Regions from separate parts of the Homo sapiens genome. Here all the other regions are linked to region 1. Evidence: fine-mapped expression QTL. A gene starts in region 1. Each other region holds a variant in brackets. All regions are shown on one strand. Distances are from middle to middle.

Region 1 (4,068 bases):
AGTAGAGTTGTGTGTGTGTACGTGTGTCTCTGTGTGTGTGCAGCACCTGTCACCTCATCTACACATCTCTCTAGCTCATGATATATGTTTCAAATCATGAACCAGAGACATTCATATATGAACATGGTTAAGACATATTCATTCTTTCTTTCTTTCTTTTCTTTTCTTTCTTTTTTTTTTTTTTTGAGACGGTGTCTCGCACTGTCGCCCAGGCTGGAGTGCAATGGCGCGATCTCGACTCACTGCAACCTCCGCCTCCCGGGTTCACACGATTCTCCTGCCTCAGCCTCCTGAGTAGCTGAGGTTAAGACATATTCTTAACGAGTAAGTTCTTTGTCTAGGATAATATTTTGTAATTTTCCACAGAATATTCTTCAGATGCCTAACTTGATGAAGGTTTTCAGGAGCCTAGTCTTAGAATCATAGAGGTTCTTGGCTCCTGGTTCCTTCTTAAATCCAATTGTTCATTACTGGAATATACAAATGAGTAGGGAGCCAGAAATGATAGGCACCAGAAACTGAGGTTTCCATTTCTCAATGTGGCCTGAACTAAATGAATTAAATCTCATCCTCCTATGGGACGTGAAGGAAAAGGGCTCTGGCTGGGAAGTACTGCTGTGCAGTGGTTAGTATAGTGGGTCTGAGGGTCAAATAGATTTGAGTGCAACTCCCAACCCAACTCCTACTACTAGCTTTGGGACCTCGGGTGAGTCACACAGCCCTCAGGTGCTACAGCTTCTATAAATAGTGATATAGTATTCTTACTTAAAGTGTGGCTGATCAGAGCAGCCCTTCCGTGGATCAACCACCCCATCAGAGGATCTATGTCTAGGATTGAGCCTTTTCTGCCCCAGGAGGTTCTTTCAGGTCCAGAGGCTTTCCCGTGGAGGGAAGAGAGGCAGCAATGAAATCAGCGTATAGGCGGACTGGGCTCTTTCCCCTTCATGTCTGCAGGGCAATGACCTCCTAGAGTCCGCTATGCACCCCCCACTTGCCTCTCTGGGCACTGCGAGGTGGAGCAGTTGTAGGACCAGGAAAAGCAAGAACAGAGCGTCCTCTTCGGCTACCCTACCCGGGAGTTCAGGCGCTGCGCCTGGCCCTCTGGGGCGTGTTTGACCATAACTCGCACCGCTTGCTCTTTTCCCATTTCAGCAAAGTCTTGAGCCTGTATTCTAGTACCTTTTATCAGCCTTGGGTAAGCAGCTCGCACGGGGTATATAAGGAGAATCAACTTTCTGAACTGAAAAAAATGTAAATAGTAAAGTCAGTCGTGCTTCTTCCTGCCGGTGACTGTTTACAAGAGGGAAGTCAGCGGGGCCCCCAAGAGGTCGCTGGTGGCGCAGGAACCGCATCCAGATTGTAAAGAACGGGGGAAGGAAAAAAAAAGAAAACACCCAGAAACTTTCTTCCTTGTTGCGAATAATCGCCGCCTCCCCCCCTCCGCCCCCAGCAGAAGCAGTAACGTGACACCCGAGCGAAATCCCGAGACCCGAGCGGAGAGGGAGGGGAGAGGGAGGAGAGTGCTGCGGAGCGCCGGAGGGAGAAAGGGGAGGAGAAGGAGGAAAACCCCTGTCAAGGAGGTGGAGCGAGGGGATGGTGTCCGCCTCCTGTTCCTCCCTGCCGTTTTTTAGAGAAGCCTGAACCGGGACAAAACACGCCGAGACCTACAGACACAAAGCCGGGGGGTCCACGCTGGCGCTGGAGGCGAGCCCCGGCGGCCGCAAGCGAGCCCGAGGCGCGGCGGGGCGCGGGGCGTGGGGACGCTAGCGGGCGCCGGACGGGCGCGGCGCCCCGTCACGGGCAGCGCCCCGAACCGGGGCCGGACACCTCGGCCGCTCGGGCCGCGGCGGCGGGGACCATGCCGAAGAAAGTCTCCTGAGCCCGGCAACTTCGGCCCCTCCCCGCCCCCACCCGGCTGCCCTCCGCGCGGCCCTCCCCATGTGCAGCCGGCCAGCCGGGCTCTCCTCCTCGCGGCGGATGGGTGACCTTTTCCTGGCACGGGCAGGCTGTGGGAGGCAGCGGAGCAGGCGATGAAGAAGAAGCAGCAGCATCCCGGCGGCGGCGCGGATCCCTGGCCCCATGGGGCCCCTATGGGGGGCGCCCCTCCGGGCCTGGGCAGCTGGAAGCGTCGGGTGCCCCTGCTGCCTTTCCTGCGCTTCTCCCTCCGGGACTACGGCTTCTGCATGGCCACCCTGCTGGTCTTCTGCCTGGGCTCCCTCCTCTATCAGCTCAGCGGGGGACCCCCTCGCTTCCTGCTCGACCTGCGGCAGTACTTGGGTAAGGAAGCTGGGCAGGCGCTAGGGCGGCGCCGACAGCGCAAAGTTGTGCGGCGGGGAGAGGGTCGCGGCGGGGACTTCTCGCGCTGCCACCGCGCGCCGCCGCCGCCCCGGGTCTCTCCAGGTGCTAAGCCCGTGAGCATCTGTGCCGCGGTCGGGAGCGCCTTCTTCCTCCCGCGCGTCCGACTGTCCTCACCGAGGCGGGGGCGCCGCTGGGTTGCGCTGCCGGCAGGTACCCCGGGGCGAGGCACCGCTCACCTTCCCCCCGCCCCACCTCCGCCACCCGGATCCGGACTGGGGCGGAGTGGATGGGTGTGTGGGGTGTGCCGGAGTGTGTGTATCTTCAGGCCTGGCGGCGCGGGGAGTGGCGAAGGGAAGGGAAGGTCCTCTTCGTTGCATTGTTAGTGACCGCAGTTCAGTCCCGTCCCGCGCCCCGGGGAGTGTGGGTGGGTTTAGCCCTTTGCCACCGTCCGCTCTGAGAATTCTGTCCCGCAGATCCCCCGCCTGCCCGCCGGCCCTAGTGGCTCCGCGCTGTCCCCGGGCTGGCTTGTCCCTTGGCTGCCGCTGCCCACCCCGCCGCCCGCAGCTAGCCTGGCGCGGGGAACGGGTTGCATCCAGGGGTTTGGGGATGCCCGAGGGCGCTGGTCAGCCTGGCCAGCAGTGTCGCCCCCAGTAACCCGAGGATCCTCGGCGCTGTGTGCGTCTCAAGCTCAAGTCAAAACTTGTGTGTGTGTGTGTGTGTGTGTGTGTGTGTGTGTGTGTGTGTGTGTGTGTGTGGTTTATTAGGAGAGAGGCCGCCTGTCTTTAGCAGAAGTAAGGAAGGGGTTTGACGGGAGGGAAAGAGCCGCTCCAGCGAGAAGGCGTGACCCCGCAGCTCCCTCGTCTCGGCTGCGGGAGCCAGGGGTGCCAGGGACAGGCGAGCGCAAGCCCAGGTCGCAAGGACGATGCTGGCACTCGCGTTCGAGCCAAGGGAGGATGCAGATCCCTCCCAAGTCTGTGGCCAGAAGAGGTCGTGCGGGGGTGAAGGCTGGGAGAGCTCCAGCTTCTTGCAAGCATCCGAAGTGATAAGCCTGAGCATCTGCACGATGAGAGCGAGTGCGGGGAAGCAGAGCCACCGAAGTGCTGGAAAGAAAATGGGCCAAATGACCCGGGCCAGCTGGAGGCTGCCACAGTTACCCCAAACGTCACTTCGTGGCAGAAGCCACAGGTCTAGATAGTAGACCGTTTGGAGAAAAGAGAAAAGAAAAGGAAAAAAAAAAAACCCAAAACAAACAAACAAAACAAAGCAAAACAAAAACAAAACCACATCAGCCAAGTTACAAATGTGTTAGGGCATTTGGAAATGTAGATGTGGATAAAATAATATTCTTTACCTTGTACAAGACCTCATATTTTAAAAGTTACACTTTTATTTCTTTATAAACTTTGGGGAACTACAGATTACAGGAAAAGTTGGCCCAAGTAGATTTCCATAGCATTTGGTTTCATAGAGGATTTGGGGCAATATATCCTTTATTAGGGAATCAAACCTCTTCTTTTCATAAGTTCTGTATTGTGGAGTCTCATAGCTTCCTCCACTCTCTGACACCTGCTAGTGCCACAAAAGTTAACAGTATTTTCATCACCAGCAGCAATCCCTGTTAACAGGCATTGGGAGGCAAGCGTTGAGGCTCAGGGTCTTTCTCCATTAAATCTGACAGTGAATTCTTGTGGAAGTTCTTTTTAAGTAATAGATGGAGGCCAGGGGTGTAGGGAAAAGTGTAATGGACCAGGATGGAAGTCATCTGTGCTC
Region 2 (4,068 bases), 160 kb before region 1:
AGACCCTCCACTGGCAAAGCTTACAATGTGTCAAAGGCTCAGATGATTGTTAGCATTTTTTAGCAATCAAGCATTTTTAAATTAAGGTATGTGAATTGTTTTCTTAGACATAATGATTTTGCACACAATAAACTGTGGTATAGTGTAAACATAACTTTTAGATATACTGGGAAAACAAAAAAATTTTTGTGACGTGCATTTTTGTGACATTCACTTTATTGCAGTGGTTTGAACAGGACCCACAATATCTCCAACGTATTCCTGTATACACCTGGACCTTAACCAGTGGGAAAAATGAGCAGCAAAGTTGTCCTGGGTCAACTAGAGCTGGAAAGTGTCGGGGCTGGGACAAACCAGGCACTATCTGTGCCCAGCCCCCTCTCAGCTCCACTAAACAGCTTTTTTTCCTCCTTCAGCTCAAGGGCCACCAAAGTGAGGGGGGCTGGTGATGTCTGTGGTGCCCCTGTCCATTCATGCCCAAAACAGGTGAGAATGGAACCACACAAAAGTGAAAATGAAACTGGTGGGGAGGAGGAAATAAGGTTCAGAGGGAAAGAATAGGGGTGCACACAGGAAAAAGAAGAAAAACAAAGGGGAGACTTTCACAGATTGCCTAGCCATGGCACTGGCACAGGCAGTAAATGATGTGGATTCTGTCTTGGGACATGTGGCTACTCTATTCTGAAAATGTCATTTGCTTAAAAAAAAAAATTATCTATTGCCATTTAGCCCTCCTGGATATGCAACTTAAAAAAATCAAATACAGAAATTGGGTTATTTTCTCCAAATAAATTGAGAATATTTTATATTACTTATTGTGTCTTTATAGTAGAAGATATTGCGAGTTTTTCACCTAACGTTTTCCTTTTTGTCATGGACGCACAACTGGATTGCATTTCCCAGCCTCTCTCACGGGTAGGTGTGGTCACATGACTGAGTTCTAGCCAATGGAATGTGAGAGGAAGCCAGAGCTGACGCATAGAACCTCTCACGTTATTTTCCCTTCCATGGTGACATGGGAAGCATCCATTGAAGAAGGTGGAGCCATGGGTGGGAAAGGAGCCTGATCCCTCAGTTATAGTCAGCCCTCCAAATCTGTGGGCTCCACATCCTTGGATCCAACCAATGCTGACTTGAAAATATTTGAAACAACAACAACAAAAATAACAATATAACAACAAAAAATAATACAAATAGGAAACAATATACAGTAACAACTATTTACACAACATTTACATTATATTAGGTATTTAAATTTTTTTTAGAGTTGGGGTCTCACTATGTTGCCCAGGCTGGAGTGCAGTAGCACAATCATAGCTTACTGCCATCTCAAACTCTGGGGCTCAGGCCATCTTCCCACCTCAGCCTCCCAATGTGTTAGGATTACAGGTGTGAGCCATTGCACCTGGCCTGTGTTAAGTATTATAAGTAATCTAGAGATGATTTAAAGTATACAGAAGGATGTGCACAGGTTATATGCAAATACTATGCCATTTTGTATCAGGGACTTGAGCATCCAGGGATTTTGGTATCTGCAGAGTT[G/C]TGGAACCAATCCCCCAGGGAGGCTGAGGGATGATTAAACTTTTTGTGTGTGTGTGTGTGTGAAGTATTTGACAGGTTTACATCACTGCTCACCACTAGGGAACAAATTAATCATTTTTTCTGTGCCTCAGTCTTTTCCTTATCTGAAAATATTGATAGCAACTACCTCCTGGGGCTATTGGAAGTACTAAATGAGTCAATATTTTCACACTTAGAATAGGGCTCTGCTTAGAGTAAGCACTACATAAGGATATATTAAATAGTGAAAGCTCTATAAGTGTCAGTATTATATTAGCCTTTATGGCTGTTAAGGACTGAATATTTGTGTATCCTCAAAATTCTTATGTTGAAATCTTAATCCTCAATGTGACAATACTTGGAGATAGCAACTATGAGAAGGTAATAAAATTAACTGAGGTCACACATATGGGTCCCTAATCTGATAGGTCTGGTACCTTTTTTTAAATTTTTTTTTTGAGATGGAGTCTCGCTCTGTTGCCCAGGCTGGAGTGCAATGGTGCGATCTCAGCTCACTGCAACCTCTGCCTCCCAGGCTCAAGTGATTCTCCTGCCTCAGACTCCCGAGTAGCTGGGACTACAGGCACGTGCCACCACACCCGGCTAATTTTTTATATTTTTTGTAGAGACAGGGTTTCACCATGTTAGCCAGGATGGTCTCCATCTCCTGACCTCTTGATCCTCCCGCATTGGCCTCCCAAAGTGCTGGGATTACAGGCGTGAGCCACCACGCCTGGCCTGGTGCTCTTTTAAGAAGAGGAAAATATATCAGCATTCTCTCTCTGCACACGTGTGCACCAAGGAAGGTCATGAAAGGACACTGTGAGAAGGTGCCATCTGCAATCCAGGAGGGGAGTCCTCACCAGACACGAAATCTGCCAGCACCTTGATCTTGGACTTCTTAGCCTCTACAACTGTGAGAAAATAAATTTCTGTTGTTTAAGACATGCAGTCTGTGATACTTTGTTCTGGCAGCCCAAGCAGATGAACACAATGGCTATTCTAAACATTTTAAGACATTTCCTTGAATGGTAATGAGAATAACCTTGGTTGATAGGTTTTCTTTTTTCAGGATGGCATAAAAGTTAGGAGTTGAGGTTGAGGTGTCAGATGAGTTGGCCTGGGTTCAAATCTTGGCTTTGCAGTACTGTGAGACATGAAAAATTTACTTAACTCCACTAAGTCTTAATTTTCTCATTAATAGGACTATAATATCTACTTCATAGGGCTATTGGAGGATTAATGAGATAATGTTTGTAAAAAAAAATTCAGTGGAGTGCCTGGCACATAGTTAGTCCTAATTAATCTCAGAATCTGTTTTTTTTGGTTGTTATTGTTGTTGTTGTTTACTTTTTGGCGCCAAAACTCTTCCTTGAAGCAAAATCTTAGATAAATAGCCAATCCAGCATAGATGGAAGCAGAGGGTAGGGCTTGGAAGGGAGGAGACCCTCTGTCCACCCACGGGCTTCTCCTCACATCCAGTGACATTCTCCAGAGTGTCCCTGAGTCACCTCTGTGGAATCCTAGCACTGCTCAGCACAGTTTGATCATTTATAGGACTTGAAGTTCCCTAAACGATTATTTTGTTCCAGTTTTAACATTGTTATGACTACGAGAAGTGGCATGTGGCCGTGAAATGGAAGTGGAAGTTGAAATTATACTCACACGACCTTTTCCCTATGTTTGGGCCTCTTCTGACTTAGCAAATGACTTCCACCACTGCCTCTCACGCTCACGGGTTAAGCCCCCTCTCTACAGGAGTCGCCGCCCTTTCTCCCGTCTGCTTCTGCTGCATGGAGAGGGGTGGCAGGACGCTGACATGATGCTGACATGATGCTGTTGCCCTGCTGCCTGGGGCCCCATTGAGGGGTCCAGGCTCCAGATGAGGAGTGAGAGCTCATGAGATTTCATTTGTAGAGCCGGATGGCTAAGTTTCTGACAGATAAGGCCCTCAGCCAGTTACAAGGCATGGTTGTGAAACTAAATTATCTAGGGAAAAAAATGAGCCGTTCTGACACCCCCGTGCCTTCATCCAGTCAAAAGTTAAATTATCGCCCAAATTTTCCCTCTGTACCTCTACTTAGCGGTACAAGTGTAAGCCATACATAAAACTCCAGTTAACTCTGACTGGGCAGGAGTGGCTCCATTTCCCTTGCATTCAGAGGAGGCCACGTGGCTGCTGAAACCCTTAGGGGACTTTCACTCCCACTGGGATGAAATTTTAAGTCTTAACCATGGTCTCTGACCTCATATCCTCTCCGTCTCCTCCTGACCCTTGCTGCTCCAGTCACTCTTGTCTGGGGTTCCTCGAGCATGTGAAGTATTTTCCACTGTCTGAGCCTTTGCACATCTGTTCCTGTGACCTTCCTCCCAGAGAGCCACGGAGCTCCATTCTTCATCAACTTCCTCCTCAAAAAGGCCTTCCTTGCTTGCCGTGTCTAAAACAGCATCACCGATCCCTCTCTAAAATTGTGCCCTGCCAACATACAGTTACGTAGGAGGAATAAA
Region 3 (4,068 bases), 110 kb after region 1:
TAAAGGCCAGTGACTAGGCGGTAGCTACCTCTTGAAGAGATGGGACTAGGGTTGCGGGGCGGGCTTTCCCACATAATCTCTTGTGGGATGTCAGAGATGATCTGGGTAAATCACGTGTTTATGCGTGAGTTATTTGCCTTGGTCAGGAAGGCTGCCTTTGAACTGACTAGAATAGAAAAATGACAGGTGTAAACTTGCCCTAAGTTACATTTCAGGTTGGTCTTCATACCAAAGCTTATGGAGAATTGGGATCTAAACTGTTACTGTGGTTGAATCCCTGACTTTCTCTTTTTTCCTCCTTTTTTGAGGAGGAAAATCAGAGATAACATTTTAGAATAAATAATTTATTATAGCTGAATTACTTAATACTGGCAATGAGAGCTTTGTGATATATATATTACATTATATAATAAATTACATATATTATTACATATATTACTTATATATACATAATATATAAACTATATGCCTATTATATATAATTTAAAGGAGGGAATGAATGTAGGTGTAGTAGTATGTCATCTTAGAATTTTTTGGGCTTTTCATCATTTTTATGAGGAAGTCAATTAACAACATCTTGAAATTGTTAAACACATTCAGTGAACAGAACTTGGCTTCAACTGTGAATTTTCACCACAAGCTCTGCAACAAATTGTAGGGATGCTCTAAGGAGAGCCACAGCTACTCTCACGGTCAGAGCCCCCTAAGCACACACATACACACCAAGCTGATTCTGCCTGTCATTCTCATGACTATACGGTTTCCCACTGTAAATGTATATTCCTTTTATCACAACTGAGTTGAGTCATAGCCATCCTTTAAGGCACAGCGAATGTATTACGCCCACCGTAAGTTCTGCCAACATTGTATCTACTCCTTCCCGTGAATGCACAGTCAATTAACACAACTGGGTAAGTATATCTAACTTACCAAGGGCAGAACTTAGAGCACAGACTGTATTTGCACCATGACATTAGATACTCGGTTATAGTCATCTTAACTCCAATTCTGCATATGAGGAAAAGAGACTCAGAAAAGCTGAGTGGCTTGACCGATATTGTAGAGCTTATTCATGGTGAAGATTCCAGGTGGTCTTGAAGTGCTCTTACCCCTTATGAAATTTCCCAGATGTGAGGCAGATGTTGCAGTGAGCTGAGATCATGCCACTGCACTCCAGCCTGGGAGACAGAGTGAGTCTCCATCTCAAAAAAAAAAAAAAAAAATTCCCAGATGTTTGAGGAGGAAGAAGCATAGCAAGTGCTTCTCCACCTCTGTTTATTTTTTCTGTCTGATCCAGGTCTGGGTGGCTAGTGGTTGAGAAACCACAGGATAGTGGTTTCTCCTGTCAGTGAATAGGAATCTTCATTAGGCAAAAAACAACACTTGGGCGAAAATGAAAAAAAACCCAAGTATGTGTTGAATGCAAAGAGTATGTTTACTTGTAGCAACATTATAGAATATATTGTGTAATGCAAACATACACAATGCCTTCTAAGACTGTGAAAGCATTTTTTATTAGTCAGTGTTCTGTAGAGGCACAGAACTAATAGGCTAGATGTATATATGAAGGGAGTTTATTAAGGAGTATTGACTCACACGATCACAAGGTGAAGTGCCACAGCAGGCCATCTGCAAGCTGAGGAACAGGGAAGCCAATCCAAGTCCCAAAACCTCAGAAGTAAGGAAGCCTACAGTACAGCCTTCAGTCTGTGGCCAAAGGCCTGAGAGCCCCTGGAAAATCACTGATGTAACAAGAGTCCAAAAGCTGAAGAACTTGGGTCTGATGTTCGAGGGCAGGAAGTATTCAGCATGGGAGAAAGATGGAGAAAGCTGATTTGATGGTGCCCACCCAGATAGAGGGTGGGTCTGCCTCTCCAGTCCACTGACTCAAATGGCAACACCCTCACAGACATACCCAGGAACAACATTTGCATCTTTCTTTTTTTTTTTTTAATTATACTTTAAGTTCTAGGGTACATGTGCACAATGTGCAGGTTTGTTACATATGTATTCATGTGCTATATTGGTGCGCTGCACCCATTAACTCGTCATTTACATTAGGTATATCTCCTAATGCTATCCCTCCCCCCTTGCCCCACCCCACAACAGGCCCGGGCGTGTGATGTTCCCCACCCTGTGTCCATGTGTTCTCATTGTTCAGTTCCCACCTATGAGTGAGAACATGTGGTGTTTGGTTTTCTGTCCTTGCAACAGTTTGCTCAGAATGATCGTTTCCAGCTTCATCCATGTCTCTACAAAGGA[C/T]GTGAACTCATCCTTTTTTTATGGCTGCATAGTATTCCATGGTGTATATGTGCCACATTTTTTTAATCCAGCCTATCATTGATGGACATTTGGGTTGGTTCCAAGTCTTTGCTGTTGTGAATAGTGCCGCAATAAACATACGTGTGCATGTGTCTTTATAGCAGCATGATTTATAATCCTTTGGGTATATACCCAGTAATGGGATGGCTTGGTCAAATGGTATTTCTAGTTCTAGATCCTTGAGGAATCTCCACACTGTCTTCCACAATGGTTGAACTAGTTTACAGTCCTACCAACAGTGTAAAAGTGTTCCTATTTCTCCACATCCTCTTCAGCACCTGTTGTTTCCTGACTTTTTACCATTCTAACTGGTGTGAGATGGTATCTCATTGTGGTTTTGATTTGCATTTCTCTGATGGCCAGTGATGATGAGGATATTTTCATGTGTCTGTTGGCTGCATAAATGTCTTCTTTTGAGAAGTGTCTGTTCATATCCTTTGCCCACTTTTTGATGGGGTTGTTTGATTTTTTTCTTGGAAATTTGTTTGAGTTCTTTGTAGATTCTGGATATTAGCCCTTTGTCAGATGGGTAGATTGTAAAAATTTTCTCCCATTCTGTAGGTTGCCTGTTCACTCTGATGGTAGTTTCTTTTGCTGTGCAGAAGCTCTTTAGTTTAATTAGATCCCATTTGTCAATTTTGGCTTTTGTTGCCATTGCTTTTGGTGTTTTAGTCATGAAGTCCTTGCCCATGCCTAGGTCCTGAATGGTATTGCCTAGGTTTTCTTCTAGGGTTTTTATGGTTTTAGGTCTAACATTTAAGTCTTTAATCCATCTCGAATTAATTTTTGTATAAGGTGTAAGGAAGGGATCCAGTTTCAGCTTTCTACATATGGCCAGCCAGTTTTCCCAGCACCATTTATTAAATAGGGAATCCTTTCCCCATTGCTGGTTTTTGTCAGGTTTGTCAAAGATCAGATGGTTGTAGATGTGTGGTATTATTTCTGAGGGCTCTGTTCTGTTCCATTGATCTATATCTCTGTTTTGGTACCAGTACCGTGCTGTTTTGGTTACTGTAGCCTTGTCATTTAGTTTGAAGTCAGGTAGAATGATGCCTCCAGCTTTGTTCTTTTGGCTTAGGATTGTCTTGGCAATGCAGGCTCTTTTTTGGTTCCACATGAACTTTAAAGTAGTTTTTTTCCAATTCTGTGAAGAAAGTCATTGGTAGCTTAATGGGGATGGCATTGAATCTACAAATTACCTTGGGCAGTATGGCCATTTTCACGATATTGATTCTTCCTATCCATGAGCATGGAATGTTCTTCCATTTGTTTGTGTCCTCTTTTATTTCTTTGAGCAGTGGTTTGTAGTTCTCTTTGAAGATGTCCTTCACATCACTTGTACGTTGGATTCCTAGGTATTTTATTCTCTTTGAAGCAATTGTGAATGGGAGTTCACTCATGATTTGGCTCTCTGTTTGTCTGTTATTGGTGTATAGGAATGCTTGTGATTTTTGCACATTGATTTTGTATCCTGAGACTTCGCTGAAGTTGCTTATCAGCTTAAGGAGATTTTGGGCTGAGATGATGGGGTTTTCTAAATATACAGTCATGTCATCTGCAAACAGGGACAATTTGACTTCCTCTTTTCCTAATTGAATACCCTTTATTTCTTTCTCCTGCCTGATTGCCCTGGCCAGAGCTTCCAACACTATGTTGAACAGGAGTGGTGAGAGAGGGCATCCCTGTCTTGTGCCAGTTTTCAAAGGGAATGCTTCCAGTTTTTGCCCATTCAGTATGATACTGGCT
Region 4 (4,068 bases), 170 kb after region 1:
TATCAACACCTGCTTCTATAGCCACAGTGAATTCCCAGTCCAGCAGGGAAGAAGGTATGTCTTTAAGGTTTTTCTACATAATGAAATAATTATGCTTTCATAATCTTGTCCCACAGGTACCATGGTGGTCATGGCAAAATGCAGAACCCAAAAGTTTTCAAAATAGTTTGTCTTCTGAAAACTGTTATTCAGTGCCAAGTTTGTTCTTGATGTTTTTCTTCTAAATATTTTGTCCTGTTTGATGAAACAAGTAATCTATGGTCATTATTTCTAAAACATATTTCCTTTTTTAATGGCTATGGCACCAGTTAAGCCTTTTAGACTTTCCAGGGTGTTGCCAGGTGGCTTCTGACTACTGTCATCCATTAAAATGGCTTAATTTGAGTTTGAGGACTAGACAGGAAGACACAGGTTTAAAGGCCCATATTTACTAGAATAACATTGTTAAAAGGAAACATTTTAATAAATTAACAGTTTATTTGAGCAAAATATGATTCATGGATCAGGCAGTTTTCAAAATCATAAGAGGTTCAGAGAGAGCTGCACTCTGCATCATGGGCAGTATTTATAGACAGAGTAGAAGGCAGGTACACAAAAAACTTGATTCCTTACAGCTCAGCTTTGCGTTCACTGGATGTGGTCTGATCAGTTGGTAGCCTGTTATTGGCTGAAGCTTAGACCGGCTTGTGATTGGCTGAGACCCAGCTATCTTTACACAAATTAGACTCCCAATTATGTTTCCATTCATTTAAATACATGGTAGATTTTGTTTCATCTTCAGGGTTTTTGATGCTAGCTGTTGACCTTTAGAGGACACATTGTGAGCCTCTTGGTCCTAATTGCTGTACGTTTTGAGACAGATCTTGCTGATGTCTTTGGTTCCAGCCTCGCCCCCACCACTCCATCCTCCACACTGGCCAATGTGGTCTCTCTGGAGGCCCCCTGCTTCACCCTCTTCTGATGCCCTGAGGATGGAGGGGTAGGAGCAAAGTTCTTCCCTCCCTTTTTCCACTCCAACCCTCCTGCCCACCCTCGAGAGGTTTCTTTGTTTGCTTTTATTTGTTTTTGAGACAAGATCTTGCTCTGTCACTCAGGCTGGAATGCGGTGGCCCAATCCTGGCTCACTGCAATCTCAACCTCCTGGGCTCAAGCAATCCTTCCACCTCAGCCTCCTGAGTAGCTGGGACCACAGGTGCATGCCACTATGCCTGGCTAGTTTTTGTTGTGTTTTGTAGAGATGAGATTCCACCATGTTGCCCAGGCTGCTCTCGAACTCCCAGGCTCAACCTACTCACTCGTCTCTACCTCCCAGTGCTTTTGTTTTTTAATAATTCCTTGTGATTTCTTGCCTGCTCTTTTAAAAGCAAGACTGGGACTCTTTAAGAGATGGTGTGTTATTTTTAATAAATCTCTGTACCCTGACCGTGTTCCCATCAGGAGCGTCAGAAGGACAAACAGCAGCTAAGTGAGCCTCTACCAGCGAGTGTTATAGACCCCTTTATAAGCTCTCCTCATTAGGCATTTCTGGCACCTAAAATAGATGGCTGGA[G/A]AGGTAATTAGATGCAGTTACTTGCAAAAGTCTCAGAGGCATTTTCTTGATAGTACACAAGAGGAGTCTATTAATTAGTTCTAACAAGGAAGGTTTAAATAACATCAGTTAATGGCCAATTGCTGGTGGCAACCAGGCAGACAGAATCCAGAGTCCCTGGGCTGAGCTTCATCCTTTGCCTGGAAGGGGAAGAGTTCCATGAAGACAGAGCTCCTGCCTGTAGTCTCTCTGGGAAGATTAAATACATACAGATTAAGGAGTTGAGAATAATTTAGTGCCAAGCTCTGTACTAATAATTGTAAGTCCAACAAGTGAACAGGAGAATCGCCCAGAGATGGAGAAGACGTGAGTGTTTGGGTCCAACAGCAATCATAACTTGCTTTTTCCTAAGTGATTTTGTGTGTTGTATAGTATGCTTGTTGTTTGTTGGGTGGTTGTGAAAAAGCATTCCATCCGTATGGGGAGATTAGGCTGGAGCCCCAAAACAAAAACTCTACCTCTCCAGGGACTCTCTGTCTGGCAGCCTATGAGGAACAGGTATTGTGTTAGAATTAATTAAGCATTTCCCTCTCTGGAGCCATCCTTTGGAATGCACACATCCCTGGGAGGAGAGACCCACCAAGCTTTCTGCACTCCAGGTGAACAGCTATAGAGAAACTTCCTCTGAGCAGGATGGACCTGGAGCATCCTTGTGGGTTATGGAAGCACAGGAAGGGGACAGAGGCCCTTCAGCATCCAGTCGCAGTCATGAAGTGCCACTCCCCATGGTCTGGTGCCTCTGGAGCCCCATCTCCCTCCAGTTGGCTGTCCCCACTGCCGCCACCCATGCCCCACTCTTCCACCCTGTGCCCCAGCCATGTGATACATCTCTACCCAGAGCAGGGCTCCAGTCCCCACCCTCTCCTCAAACACCCAGCATCATCAGAGCCAGAATTAGTAAGGAGGACATCGGCCACAGGAAACAACCTCAGATTTAACATGAGAGGGGAGTGGAGAAGAGAGCACTGGAAAGTCTCATGGTGGGGAAGAGAGATAAAATGTACACTATTGTTTTCAAAAATGTAATTCTATTCACATACCAGGAAATTCTCCCTTTTAAAGTGTACAATTCAGTGGTTTTTAGTATATTCACAAAATTTTGCCACCATTACCACTGTCCAATTCAAAGCATTTTTGTCACTCCAAAAAGAAACCCTGTACCTATTGACTGTCACTCCCCACATCCCCCATGACCTCCAACCCCTGACAACCACTAGCATACTGCCTGTCTCTATGATTTTGCCTACAGGATTCTGAGCATTTCATATAAGTGGAATCATACAATATACAATATGTGGCCTTTATGTCTGACTTCTCTTACTCAGCATAATGTTTTCGAGGTCTGTCCATGTAGGAGGTATCAGTTCATTTCTTTCTATGGCAGAATACTATTCCTTATTTGCATAGAGATGATCTTTCTTTTTCTTTTTTTTTTTTTTGAGTCGGAGTCTCGCTCTGTCCCCCAGGCTGGAGTGCAGTGGCACGATCTCAGCTCACTGCAAGCTCCCTCTCGCGGGTTCACACCATTCTCCTGCCTCAGCCTCCTCAGTACCTAGGAGTACCTAGGTACTTTTTTTTTGTATTTTCTATAGAGACAGGGTTTCACTGTGTTAGCCAGGATGGTCTTGATCTCCTGACCTCGTGATCCGCCCGCCTCGGCCTCCCAAATTGCTGGGATTACAGGCATGAGCCACCATACCTGGCCTTCTTTTATTATTATTATTATTTTATTTATTTATTTTTGAGATGGAGTCTCTCTCTGTCACCCAGGCTGGAGTGCAGTGGCACGATCTCGGCTTACTGCAACCTCCACCTCCCAGGTTCAAGCAGTTCTCATGCCTCAACGTCCCAAGTAGCTGGGATTACAGGCATGCCCCATGACACCTGGCTAATTTTTTAATTTTTAGTAGAGATGGAGTTTCACCGTGTTGGCCAGGCTGGTCTCAAACTCTTGGCCTGGCCTCAAGTGATCCACCCATCTCGGCCTCCCAAAGTGCTGAGATTACAGGCATAAGCCTTTTAGTGTCCAGCTGCCTGTACCCAACTCCCACCCTTAAAAAAAATGCTTATGCTTAAAATAGTGACATTGCATGGACATACCATGTTTTAGTTATCTGCTTATCATTTCATGGGCATTTCAGTCGTCTCCACTTTTGGGTTATTATGAATAATGCTTCTACGAATATTTCAATACAAGACTTTGGGGACATATCTTGGGTATACACCTAGGAGTGGAATTTCTGGGTCATATAGTAACTCTATGTTTAGCTTTTTGAGGAGCTGCCAGACTGTTTTCCAAAGTGGATGCACCATTTTACATTCCACCAGCAATGTAGGAGGCTTCCAGTGTCTTTGTATCCTTGCCAACATTTGTCATTGTTCATCTTTTTGATTATAGTCAGCCAGGTGGCTATAAAGTGGTATCTCATTGTGATTACTCCATGTTTTTTAATCAGTGTTTAAAGGGTTAGCATGTTCTG
Region 5 (4,068 bases), 84 kb after region 1:
CTTCCCTATCTGGAAAATGCAGAAATCTTCAGCCATGTGTGAGCATCATTGTGAAGCGGGCAGAGCACATGGGCTAATTATATATTGTATGAGATTCCAGACACAAGAATTAAGTGTTCTCTGTGCTGTTCAGTCTACTTCCAAAATCCGGCTCAAATCCACCCCACTCTCACCATCTCTACTTGCCCTTTTGAGGCCATCATTTCTCTGCTGGACTCTGCACCAGCCTCTCCCTGTGATCACTGTGTTCTCCTGGTTTCATGACTCACAGACGAGTGTTCTCCTTATTTTTACCCTCGGTTTGTTTGGAATGGTTGGGGGTTCACTTTTATATATTCAGAAACACTTGTTTTAATACTTTGTTCTTTGTAGTCCTCTTCTTTCTAATAGTTACTCATAGCTTCAATTCTCAAAACACAAAACAATTTTACCAACCCATCATTATGTATTTCTCTACTTGCTTTGGTCTGACCTAGGGACTATTATTTTGGAAGGTGTTTTAAAAAGTAATTTCATAGTTTGTGACTTAAAGTGCAAGAACATCCTGGGGTTAGTAGCACAGGAAAAGACTTGCATATCACTTTGTTAACATTTAAAAACCACCAGGCACTACACTTAAAAGATGGATGATGAATGCCACATAAAGCCTACAACTCCTGAAGCCTCTTGTCCATGAGGCTGGGTGAGTGAAAAACAGCAAAACCTGAGATCTGTGATTTTTAAGGTAATTGGAGAAACCAATACCTCCCTAAAATAGTTCCCTTAATAGAGTGACTTACTGAATTGCTCAAAGTTCAGACATGAGGAGGTGCTTTGTAGAATTTGCTGGAAACTGGACCACACCCACCAATTTCTTGCCAGTTTGTGGCAAGTGGGCCAGGTTTTGTCTGGCAACATGATGCATGCATTCAAAAACTGTATTTTCTATTATCCTTTCATTTCTACATTTATAGTATAACTAGTTTAGAGCACAAAAGAGATATGGCAATTAATATGGGAAGTGATAGACCCAACACATATTCTATCCAATTCTATCCCCACAAAGACGACCGGACTAAGCAGCAGCCCCAGGGTCTTGCCGCATCGTTTCCTTTCGGGAGCACTCACCCACAATGTGTTGGGTGCCACAATGCACTGAAAATGTGACCACTGCCCTTGATCATAGAACTATGGAACCTTAGTGCTAGATGAGACCTTAGAGGTTTTCTAGTCCAGTGGTTTTTTGGATTAGAAACTAGGAAGAGCATTACTTGGGGACTGTCAAGTAAAAACATTTTTAAAAATTCTACCATCAAGAAATTACGCTAAGTGAAAGGAGCAAGATGCAAAAAGACACTGTTTTATGATTCCACTCATTTGAAGTACCTAGAGTAGTCAAATTCATAGAAACGAAAATAAAATGGTGGTTGCCAGAGACAGGGGGGAGGAGGAAATGGGGAGCTATTGTGTAATGTGTAGAGTTTCAGTTTGGGCTAATGAGAAAGTTATGGAGAGGGATAGTGGTGATGACTGCACAACATTGTGAATGTATTTAATGCCACTGAACTGTCCACTTAAAAATGGTAAATTATATATGTATTTTGCCACAGTAAAATTCTGCTTTCATCACCGTTGCTTGAAAGAAAAGAAATTTTTACATTGAAAAGAAAGGAAAATTAAAAGAAAGATGAAAGAAAAAGAAAGAAAAGGGGGGGGTGGGAAGAATCAATCTTGAAGGAAATTCCTTTAAAATGATTAAATATAACTTTAGGAAGCAGATCAACACATTGCCCTTTGTGCCCTTTGCTTTCGTCTTTCTCACAGACTAGACCAGCGCCGACTGTTTCGCAGCCACATACCAGCATCTGGAAGCTACTGTAACTTCTGCGGTACAATTCTCTCATTTTGCAGATG[A/G]AAAAATTCAGGTGCAGAGAGAGGAAGTGTCTTTTCCACAGCCACAGGGTGTATTTGTGACTGGGACAGTCATTTCATGACTCACAGACAAGTATTCTTTTTACTTTATTATTATAGGAAATTCGCCTTATAGTTTAGTTTTGTTTTATTAAGTCTTTATTGCTATTGGCTTCAGATTTAGTTATCACTTATAGAATCCCTTCTGAGTGCCAGGCATTGTATTTTCTATTTTCACTTAGCAGACATTTATATAGTGCTTATCGGAAGCAAGACACTGTGCTAAGTGCCCGACAAATAAGAAGTCATATAATCCTAACAGTAACCCTCAGAGATGAGAACAATTGTTATCCCCTATTTTAAAAATAAGGAAAACTAGCTGAGTGCGGTGGCTCATGCATGTGGTCCCAGCTACTCGGCAGGCTGAGGCAAGAAGATTGTTTGAGCCAAGGAGTTTAAGGCTGCAGAGAGCTATGATTGTGCCACTGCATTCCAGCCTGCACAGAGTACAGCCCTATCTCTTAAAAAAAATAAAAAAAAGAAAGTAGGTGGGGTGGAACTGAGACCCAGATTGCTTAAATACTTTCCCGAAGTCATATATAGGGCTAGTAAGTGGTGGATTCCAATTCAGTTTTGACTCACTGCAGTTAAACTCAATTACCCAACCTGATGATAAACAATGGGTCTAATACTTGTAAATACATTTGGTAGAATATTAATTGACTTTACTTATTTATTTATTTGAGACAATCTCTCTCTATTGCCCAGGCTGGAGTGCAGTGGCGCAGTCTCAGTTCATTGCAGCCTCCACCGCCTGGATTCAAGCGATTCTGCCTCAACCTCCTAAGTAGCTGGGATTGCACGCATGCACCACCACGCCCAGTTAATTTTTGTATTTTTAGTAGAGACAGGGTTTCGCCATGTTGGCCAGGCTGGTCTTGAATTCCTGACCTCAGGTGATCCACCTGCCTCGGCCTCCCAAAAGAATATTAATTGACTTTAAACCAAACACCGTAAATGTGTTCTTCCTGACTCTGAGATGTATCTGAGGATATTGTGAGATCTTTATTGAAATCATCCAAAATGGGATGCCAAGTTTTGGTGTGCATATTAATTTTTTTTAATCCTTGAAAAAACTATCAACTGAACATCTTGCTTATGGATATAATTTACATGTCTTAGTATGAAGCCCTTAGGATCTGAGTACAGCACAAGTGTAATTTAAAGATGTAGCTGAGACAGACCAAAAACTGATCAGCATCCCATAGAGTGAAATAACCATGTGCCGCGTTAGGTTGGGGTGATGGTGTCAGGACTATCACACATTGAGTTGGTTATAAACCTGATGGTGATTTAGTTGTTTGGAGGAGCATTTTCATCAGAAGTCCAAGTAATCTTGCATTGGAAAGTGAATTAGAAAATGCAAATCCAGTGGCATGAGCCTTAGGATACAATACCTTATTAGAGTTGGGATACCCAGTGGTGCAGTGTAGTCAGTTTCTATTTGGAGCTCGGTCAGATGAGTTTTAGTTGATATTTAGGTAAGGACTCAAAACTCCTGAAGTATTATATTCTTTGATTTGTTTTTCAACTTGCTTCTTAAAATTAACAAGCAATGCCAAGACAGTATTGTATTTCTATCTTTTCTTTGTCATAACTGTCAGAACAAATAGCCCATAGAAAAGCATGAGAAAAAGCCTTCATCTCAAATCGTTAATAACAAGAAAAGAAAGTATAGGAGCTCCCTTATCCAACACCATTTGATGGAATCATTCTTGACCCCCTGTCCTCCTGAGAAAAAGCACCAGATCATTCATGACCTTCTCACCACTGCTTCATTTAGGACTATGAAGACAGTATCATAGGGTATAATGAAACAGTTATCTGCAATGATAGAAAAATAGTATAAGCATGTTTTTTAAAATTGTGGAACCTGACCAGGCGCAGTGGCTCATGCCTGTAATCTCAGCACTTTGTGAGGCCAGGGCGGACGGATTGCTCGAGTTCGGGAGTTGGAGACCAGCCTGGGCAACACGGCGAAATCTGTCTCTCCAAAATATACAAAAATTAGCCAGGCATGGTGGCATGTACCTGTGATCCCAGCTACTTGGGAGAATGAGTTGGGAGGATCGCTTGAGCCCCGGAGGCAGAGCTTGCAGTGACCTGAGATCGTGCGAC
Region 6 (4,068 bases), 63 kb before region 1:
ACAGCGATGGTTTGACTTTGTTTATTCCTGCTGTTACGCATCAGGCCAGAATATGCTCAGGAGCTACAGAATTGTTTATTTAAACACACACACGTGCGTGCACACACACGTGCATACACACACATGCACACACAGGCTCACGTGCACACAAGCACACACGTGGACACACACACACACAGGCACATGTGAACGTACACACGTGTGTGCAAGCACACATGCGTGCATGGACACACACCACGCACACACACACTCGCACACACACACATTTTTTCTCTTATTAGAAAAGTAACATTTTGGAAATCTCAGGGAAAAAAATTGATAAACCAAAAGATAAAAACAATGCCACATTGAATTTCACACAGAGCTGTCTTTGTGGATATCCTTTCATTATTTTGCCTATTCGTGTGTGTGTTCCCGTGTGCACGTGTACATGTGCACATGTGATCATAAAAAACTGGACAGAATTCTGTTATTAAAAAGTCCCAATTTAAAATAGAATAGTTTGGTCTAAGTTTAAAATTACATTTTAAGATATGGCTTATTATACCATGTTTGCTTTAAAGATGACCTCTCTACAGCTTATGCTAACTCTCCAGTAGCTTCCATAAAATATTAAAAACTAGTTCTGCCTCTCCTAAAGGAAGGCACTTTTATTTTCTTACACTCATTTTAATGCCTAAAATAAGAGCTTCCTCCCTCTCCCCCAATATGGTCACTATCTTCAGGACGTACTAAATCAGGAAGCTTCTCAATTCTTTCTTCCTCTACTAGTTCCTCTTTTTGGAAGAAGTTACTTTCTTAACTGGACAGATGGAAGAGTCCAACAGGCTCTGAACTGAGCCAAAGCAGAAGTGGAATCCAACACCAGGGAGCAGGTCCACATCTCCACCTCCTCCCATTTCACCTTCCCTCGTGGTGAGCTCAGCAGGAAGGGCCTCTCCTGACTGAAACTCCCCAGCCGCATTGTCTGTGGCTGCGAGGGGAAGTCAGATTCAGCCGGGGGAGAAGAAGGAAGCCTCACTCTCCCCCTAACCCTTTGGCACTCTGTGACCTCCCATCTGTCTCCTGTTTACACAGCAAACTGATTAGAACCCAGAGGAGAGCAAGAGTATGATTAGTCAGCACCCCAAATCTCAAGAATGGTCCCTATAGGATACGCTCTGTATGTTGTAATATGCAGATATGTGCACCGTGTGTGGTGTGTTAAGTATACATTGTAGATTATACTTACATTGTAATGTGCTTGTACATTAAATTACAAGTAGATTTTTATAAATTGCACAGGGAAGTTTCAACTTCCTTTAGGGCTCCATAATTAAGCTTCCTAGAATAGCTTAGAAAACAAATTTGCAATCATGTCAAAGCTAACCTATAACTTTAGTATAAAATTTAGCAAAATACATGCTGGGTAAAGAGCCATTGAAATATACTTTAAAACCACCAACCATTCTCACTTAGGTGAGAGCAACAGGGTAAGTTTCATTTACTTAGAAGTTAGTTTTGTTGTTTTTTAGTTTAGGGCCTGGCTAAGGCTCCTTCATTCCCTCTGCATTCTTCATACCTCACGTCTGTAAATACCACGAGATGCTCCCCACATGCAACTGTCCAGAAGCATGTCATCCCATTCTCAGTCTCAAATGGACTTTGTTCTTTTCAAAGGAAGAGAGGTCTTACCTGAGGCAGAACTGCAGCCACTCCTGGGATTTAGACACTTCCGGTTACGTCTGGTGGGCAGGTAGGATGAGATGATGAAAGCCTATTTCCAGAGGCTAAGGAGGTTCCTAGGAGGTAATTCATCCTAAGGGAAGAAGGAACCGGGCACAACCAGCTTGATACCGCCATAGAGGCTTC[G/A]TGGTCAACGGTGGGGAGGAATTTGGAGCACAGTGTTGTGCCAGTTTCACAGATCTGTCATCAGTACACAAGACTCTACATCTGGGTTCTAGGAAGAGAAGGGGCTGTAAGTCATAATTGGAGCATTTATTTATTTATTTAGGCTAACACTGGGATATACTTGCTTTGCTTGGGTAATTCCCTAAAGGAATGTGATATGAGAGAGATAGGGAAGGGGACAGTGGCCAGCAGACAGTGTTGGTACCTGGAAGCTTCCCAGGCATCGCTGGTGGCAGCTGAAGCTGTGGTCGTAGGCAGAGGTCTGTGCCTACAGCAGCACTACCCAGAAGGAGACCACCAGGTCTGGAGGGTGTGGTGGGCCCTGCAGAATCTGGGTGGGGCTCTCCTGAGGCAGCATCAGGGGTGATATCCTGCAGGGGCAGGGCCAGGGCCAGCAGAGCAGTCTGCTCCCAAGGACCCTGGGGTTAAGGGATGGAATGCTTACTAATTATACTCTAAATCTGGACCTCCGGGCTCAAACTGCCAGAAGCCCAGACAGGATGGAGGGATAAGAAAAGGAAACAGGAAATACTCAGAATTAAAGAAGAAATAGAGGTGCTAAAAGACCTTCTTACTGACACAGGTATCAGAATGGATAGATGGAAGATGACCTGAAACCTGGCCAGACACATTTCTAAGCACATGTGAAATGCATATGGGGAACCCTCAAGAGGAGGCTTTTGGTAGCTGGGGACCCACATGAATAGGTAGATTCTTGTTTCACTACAACAAAAATTATATCAAAGCGAAACAAAACTTGAACACAGAAACATCTATACTGGCCTAGAAAAGTGGAGACGAGAGGGAGGGAGAGAAATTGTCAAGGATTAAATTATGTTTGCAATCTCAAAACACATTCTGCAGCAGAGCCTGGGAGTCTATGTGTCCATTTATGTAATTTAGAGTGTTTTGTTCAACCATGATTTTGCAGGTTGGGCAGAGGTGGGGTGGGAGACTGATATTCATTGTTGCACAAGATGTTTTTGAATGGCAGAAATTAATTGCTGTTCATTCCATCTCAGGTTATACTATTTTCGTAGGATAACCTGAATTCATCTCAGTGATGCATCTTCAATGGGACTGAGGTATGTGTGCTTAGAATAGACTAAGAGCAGGAATTGCAGTGTTAGAAGGACTTGTGGTTTGCTCTTGTTTGGATTACCTTCCAGAAATAAAAATAATATATAAAACTCCAGCTGCCCCTTAGCACTAACTACATTAAGTTTAAGCATTACCCAGTGATATATAAATAAAAATGCCACATTATTTTTATGGAAAGTAATTTAAAGCCCCATAAATGGAGTCATATTTATCTGTGATTCTCACTGCTGTTAAGACCCCGTCTGTATCTCCTTCATTTCAGGGAAACCTGAAGTTCCTTCAGAAATAAAAAGGGTAACTTCCTGGTCCCAGTAACCTTTATAACTAGGATACTTTATTTTTTTTCTAAAATCTTACTTAGGGCTGGGCACGCTGGCTCACGTCTGTAATCCCAGCAGTTTGGGAAGCCGAGGCAGGCAGATCGCTTAAGGTCAGGAGTTCAAGACTAGCCTGGCCAACATGGCGAAACCCCATCTCTACTAAAAATACAAAAATTAGCTGGGCATGGTGGTGGGTACCTGTAATCTTAGCTACTCGGGAGGCTGAGTCAGGAGAATTGCTTGAACCTGGGAGGCAGAGGTTGTAGTGACCTGAGATAGCACCACTGCACTCCAGCCTGGGTGACAGAGCAAGACTCCATCTCAAAAAATAAATATATAATAAAAAAAAATCTTAGAGTTTGAGGATGCAGAATTTAATTTAATGTTATCAGGGCAATGTTTTTTTCTTATCTTGGGGTTACTTAGCTTAAATACTTTTCCTTTTTAATTATTAGAGAGACAGTGTGAGATCCTAAGTAGATATTGTAGAATCTCATCAAGGTATCTCTGACTCTCAAAAAGTCATTTTTGAGACGGTTGAGAGAGACAAAAGGACAACATAGACAAACTCATCTTTTTTTTAACAGCTTTATTAAGGTATAATTGATTTGCAAAAAACCCTGAACATTTAATGTATACAATTTGATGGGTTTGGACATAGGCACACACCTGTCTATAACCACAATCAAGGTAATAAACATATCCATCACTTCCAAAGCGTTTTTGTATGTTCCTTTGTGTGTATATGTTTATTTTG
Region 7 (4,068 bases), 27 kb after region 1:
TGTCACCCACGCTGGAGTGCAGTGGCACAATCTTGGCTCACTGCAACCTCTGCCTCCTGGGTTCAAGCGATTCTCATGCCTCAGCCTCCTAAGTAGCTGGGATTACAGGTGTGCACCACCATGCCCGGCTAATATTTGGCATTTTTAGAAGAGACAGGGTTTCGATATGTTGGTCAGGCTGGTCTCAAACTCCTGGCCTCAAGTGATCCTCCCACCTCGGCCTCCCAAAGTGCTGGGATTACAGGTTGAGCCACCGTGTCCAGCCCCTTCTGAGCTTTCAGTGTTACTCCCCATCCCTAAGACATGAGATCTGGGCCAGAATCTTTCTCAGAGGGGGAAATTCCAAATGAACATATTTTGAATGTCTTAAAACCTTATCTGTTAGAGGAACTTTTAAGAAAAGATCAAACATACTTCCAATTTTACAATAGTTGTCAATTAGAGGATGGAATTGATTTTACTATTTTTCAACAACTTTATTAACATTTTTTTGCGAACCTCTTTTTCCAATTCAGCAAACTTTTGCAAGTCTTGACATATTCTTATTCTAGGCATTGGTGGGTACGTGATCTCACAAAATTGTTTAAGGAATTTTAAAAAAAATTATAGAAAATAGGATCTATGTTGAAAGAATTATAAAGTGCATTACAATTTGAGACTTAAATTTCCATATCTTTTAATTTTACCTAAATTTATATGAATTTTAAAATGGTGATTGTTGGCCAGGTCTGGTGGCTCACGCCTGTAATCCCAACAATTTGGGTGGCTGAGATGGGTGGGATCACCTGAGGTCAGGAGTTCGAGACCAGCCTGGCCAACATGGTGAAACCCCATCTCTACCAAAAATACAAAAATTAGCCGGCTGTGGTGGCAGATGCCTTTAATCCCAGCTACTCAGGAGGCTGAGGCAGGAGAATCGCTTGAACCCGGGAAGTAGAGGTTGCAGTGAGCCAAGATTGTGCCACTGTACTCCAACCTGGGTGACAAGAGCAAAACTCTGTCTCAAAAAAAAAAAAAAGTGATTGTTTTTCATGTTTGGAATTATATGACATGTATGTATTAAGAGTCTAATTTATTTTTCAAGTATAAATGAGGTAAATGCAAATCCCAGAAGACTGTTTTCTATGCACACACAAAACTACATTTCTTTTAGTACACAGGGAAAGGTAAATATTCAAATTCTTTCCGTTGGGTGACATTTTGTTCACATATTTTTGTAGGGCATCCATACTTTTGTTTTACACTGAACAAAAGGACAGTGTGAGGGACAGATGTCAGAGTGAAGGTGTGAATTTGCACCAAATGCCAGGTTTAGGGCTCAGAATAGCATTTTTTTGTACGTGGGGCGCCATGAACGCAAAGACTTCCAGCGGGATGGGCGTTGAGCAGGGATTGTCTAAGAGGAATCAAATTGCCAAATGTCTGCTGCCAGATTATTCTTCCCTAAAATTGATCTCCCTGAGAACTTGTCTTGCGGCCCAATTCCCACCAGCTTCCCTCTGTCCTCCCCGACTTTATAAAGAAGCTTATCTGACTCTATGCTGGTGTCAAACACCTCCAGGTACCAAAGGAAGAATTCAAAATCCTGGCATGGAGAAAGTGAATGACTAGTGACTACAGCAAACCCTTTTGCAGGTCACGTGGCTCCTATTCTTGGCTTTCAACCAAAGTGAAGGAGGATCTAATCTAGTTATCCCCTCAGGTAGATCACCAACAGATCACTATGGGATTTAGAAAGATGTTAAAGAAGCGTGTGACACGGCTATAACTAAACACTCTCCATTCCTGTCTGTTAAAGCGAACAAGGTTATTTTATATATATATATATATATAAAAATATAATGAATAAATAGGAATAAAATTGAAATCAGTGAAATTTACTTATAGACAAGGCCCTATTCACTGTATTTATGATCAAATTCCACTTTTGATTTTAATTATTTGTGAAATGTGTAAAATCTTTATATTGTTTTGATCAACTGTGAAACAAAGGTAATCTTAATAATAACTCAAATTCAGGATATATAGTTTAAACT[T/C]TTAAAGCATTATGGTCACAAGAATATTTTTTAAATGAATTTTACTTTACCTACATAGTTTTGTCATGTAGAAATAGAACAGAGAGATCAATACAGTAATTTCAAGCGTGAAGTATAATCTGTTAGAACAAAAATCTGTGGGGGGAATGGAATGAAAATACAAGCTGAAAAATTTGTTACTCAGACTTTCTTTTCAGCATTTTTTAGAGGATTTGTGAATTTCAGAGAAAAATGAGTGCATGAGGTCAGGTGCGGTGGCTCACGCCTGTAATCCTAGCACTTCGGGAGGCCAAGGTGGGCGGATCACCTGAGGTCAGGAGTTCGAAACCAGCCTGACCAACATGGTGAAACCCCGTCTTTACTAAAAATACAAAATTAGCCAGGCATGGTGGCAGGCGCCTGTAATCCCAGCTACTGGGGAGGCTGGGGCAGGAGAATCACTTGAACCTGGGATGCGGGGGTTGCAGTCAGCCGAGATTACGCCACTACACTCCAGCCTGGAGTCTGACAGAGTGAGACTTCATCTCAAAGAAAAAAAAAAGAGTGCATGAAAGAAAAGCTTGTTAATTCCTCCTTGACTTCATAATGATCTCACCTCTAACAAGGGTTTCCCAATATTGAGAATATCTTAAACATACATATGCTATCCTCTCCGTCCCTCCTAGGCCCGCCCTCTACCTGAGGTAACTAGTATTCTTGGTCTTGTATTTATTGTTCTCTGCCAAGTTTTGCAGGGCTTGAATATTATGTGAATTTGACAGCTTCCTTTAGGACAAAGAATAAAACATTGTCAGTTAAAAAAAAATGCCCACTCCAGTGCAGTGTCGCCCAGCGTGAGAGGTTGTGTGGAGAAGGGGAAGTTAGGATGGAGCGAGGTGGTGGTCTTTACCAATGGCAGTTTCCTTTTGCAGATTTTGCAAAAAAAACGTGAGCATGTGCGTTTATTGTTAGAGCCACCCCTCAGACTTGGAAAGGAGCTCATAAAAGTAAGGGCTCCTGAAATTTAAACTTCAGCAGTCACTGTGAAACTACCTCTGTGTATGTGTATGTGTGTGCATGTGGGTGTGCATACACACATACATCCCTGAAAACTGTGTTGGTTTTAGTTGATTGTAACTCTTTTTTTAATTAAATTTTTTTTTTTTTGGGGCGGGGAGAGAGTCTCACTCTATCCCCCAGGCTGGAGTGCAGTGGCACGATCTTGGCTCACTGCAACCTCTGCTTCCTGGATTCAAGCAATTCTCCTGCCTCAGCCTCCCGAGTAGCTGGGATCACAGGCACACGCCTCCATGCCCAGCTAATTTTTTTTGAAATTTTTAGTAGAGATGGGGTTTCACCATGTTGGTCAGGCTGATCTCGAACTCCTGACCTCAGGAAATCTGCCCGCCTCAGCCTCCCAAAGTGCTGGGATTACGGGTGTGAGCCACTGCGCCCGGCCTGGTAAAATATGAATTTTATACCTTGTTCTAGGAGAACAGGACGTATATATTTGATTGTTATTGCTATTGTTTTATAACTTGGAGGAATTATGAGCTGAAATTTTATTACTTACACTTTATTTTCTGCATTTTTTAAAGGACATGTGAATTCCAGAGAATTGTCCTTATTTATTTTGGCTGAATTAATAGGGCAAATTTGCCTCCTCTGAAGGAAAAAAAATAGACAAGAAAGATCTCTTTAAATACCAGCCTGGTGTTGTTCTGTGTTAGAGAAATTCTGGCTTTTGCTTCAGACCTCCAGTCCTGGTTTCCAGAAGAGGAGCACTTTCTGGTTCTCATTCAGGCCCTTAGTGGATCTTCTTCCAAGATTTTTAAAAATATGACCATTAGCTTACATTTTCCTATGTGTTCAATCCTCTTCTCAGCAGAAGTGTTTGCGGTGGATTTTTGAGGGTGGGAGTGTGGTCAATGACGCAACTGAGCCTTTCAGGGACTTGGAAATAAAGCTGTTTTATTGTGATGACCAGTTTTGTGCAGAATCATCTCATTCTTTTCTGCACGTGGTGAGTTTTGAAGTGAAACTTAAAGTTTAA

What was found. PIP is the estimated chance that this variant, and not a neighbour inherited with it, causes the effect.
Region 2: its variant is the best candidate, but not a certain one, in a credible set for the expression of UST in sigmoid colon (GTEx, PIP 0.58).
Region 3: its variant is the best candidate, but not a certain one, in a credible set for the expression of UST in whole blood (TOPMed, PIP 0.66).
Region 4: its variant is the best candidate, but not a certain one, in a credible set for the expression of UST in anterior cingulate cortex (GTEx, PIP 0.67).
Region 5: its variant is the best candidate, but not a certain one, in a credible set for the expression of UST in whole blood (INTERVAL, PIP 0.64).
Region 6: its variant is the best candidate, but not a certain one, in a credible set for the expression of UST in lymphoblastoid cells (GTEx, PIP 0.66).
Region 7: its variant is the best candidate, but not a certain one, in a credible set for the expression of UST in pancreas (GTEx, PIP 0.68).

The regions. Positions count from the first base shown.
Region 1 is chr6:148,745,401-148,749,468 of GRCh38, forward strand. It overlaps UST (uronyl 2-sulfotransferase), which reads left to right and starts at 1,630. Exons shown (of 8, transcript NM_005715.3): 1 at 1,630-2,277. The coding sequence starts at 2,031. It overlaps LOC124901425 (a long non-coding RNA gene), which reads right to left and starts at 199. Exons shown (of 2, transcript XR_007059806.1): 1 at 1-199. RefSeq lists enhancers at 1,259-1,318, 1,379-1,458, 2,767-3,268, 3,269-3,768 and silencers at 2,029-2,118, 2,419-2,588.
Region 2 is chr6:148,590,137-148,594,204 of GRCh38, forward strand. No RefSeq gene overlaps it. Among named protein-coding and RNA genes, the nearest start is that of UST, 150 kb to the right of the region's middle. The variant G/C (reference allele first, on the strand shown) is at 1,543.
Region 3 is chr6:148,856,558-148,860,625 of GRCh38, forward strand. All of the region lies in intron 1 of UST (uronyl 2-sulfotransferase), which reads left to right. Among named protein-coding and RNA genes, the nearest start is that of UST-AS1, 110 kb to the right of the region's middle. The variant C/T (reference allele first, on the strand shown) is at 2,263.
Region 4 is chr6:148,919,480-148,923,547 of GRCh38, forward strand. The region is part of intron 2 of UST (uronyl 2-sulfotransferase); the gene reads left to right. Among named protein-coding and RNA genes, the nearest start is that of UST-AS1, 43 kb to the right of the region's middle. The variant G/A (reference allele first, on the strand shown) is at 1,550.
Region 5 is chr6:148,829,381-148,833,448 of GRCh38, forward strand. The region is part of intron 1 of UST (uronyl 2-sulfotransferase); the gene reads left to right. Among named protein-coding and RNA genes, the nearest start is that of UST, 84 kb to the left of the region's middle. The variant A/G (reference allele first, on the strand shown) is at 1,894.
Region 6 is chr6:148,682,296-148,686,363 of GRCh38, forward strand. No RefSeq gene overlaps it. Among named protein-coding and RNA genes, the nearest start is that of UST, 63 kb to the right of the region's middle. The variant G/A (reference allele first, on the strand shown) is at 1,852.
Region 7 is chr6:148,772,458-148,776,525 of GRCh38, forward strand. All of the region lies in intron 1 of UST (uronyl 2-sulfotransferase), which reads left to right. LOC107986659 (a long non-coding RNA gene) reads right to left here and starts at 1,106. Exons shown (of 2, transcript XR_001744408.2): 1 at 1-1,106. The variant T/C (reference allele first, on the strand shown) is at 2,037.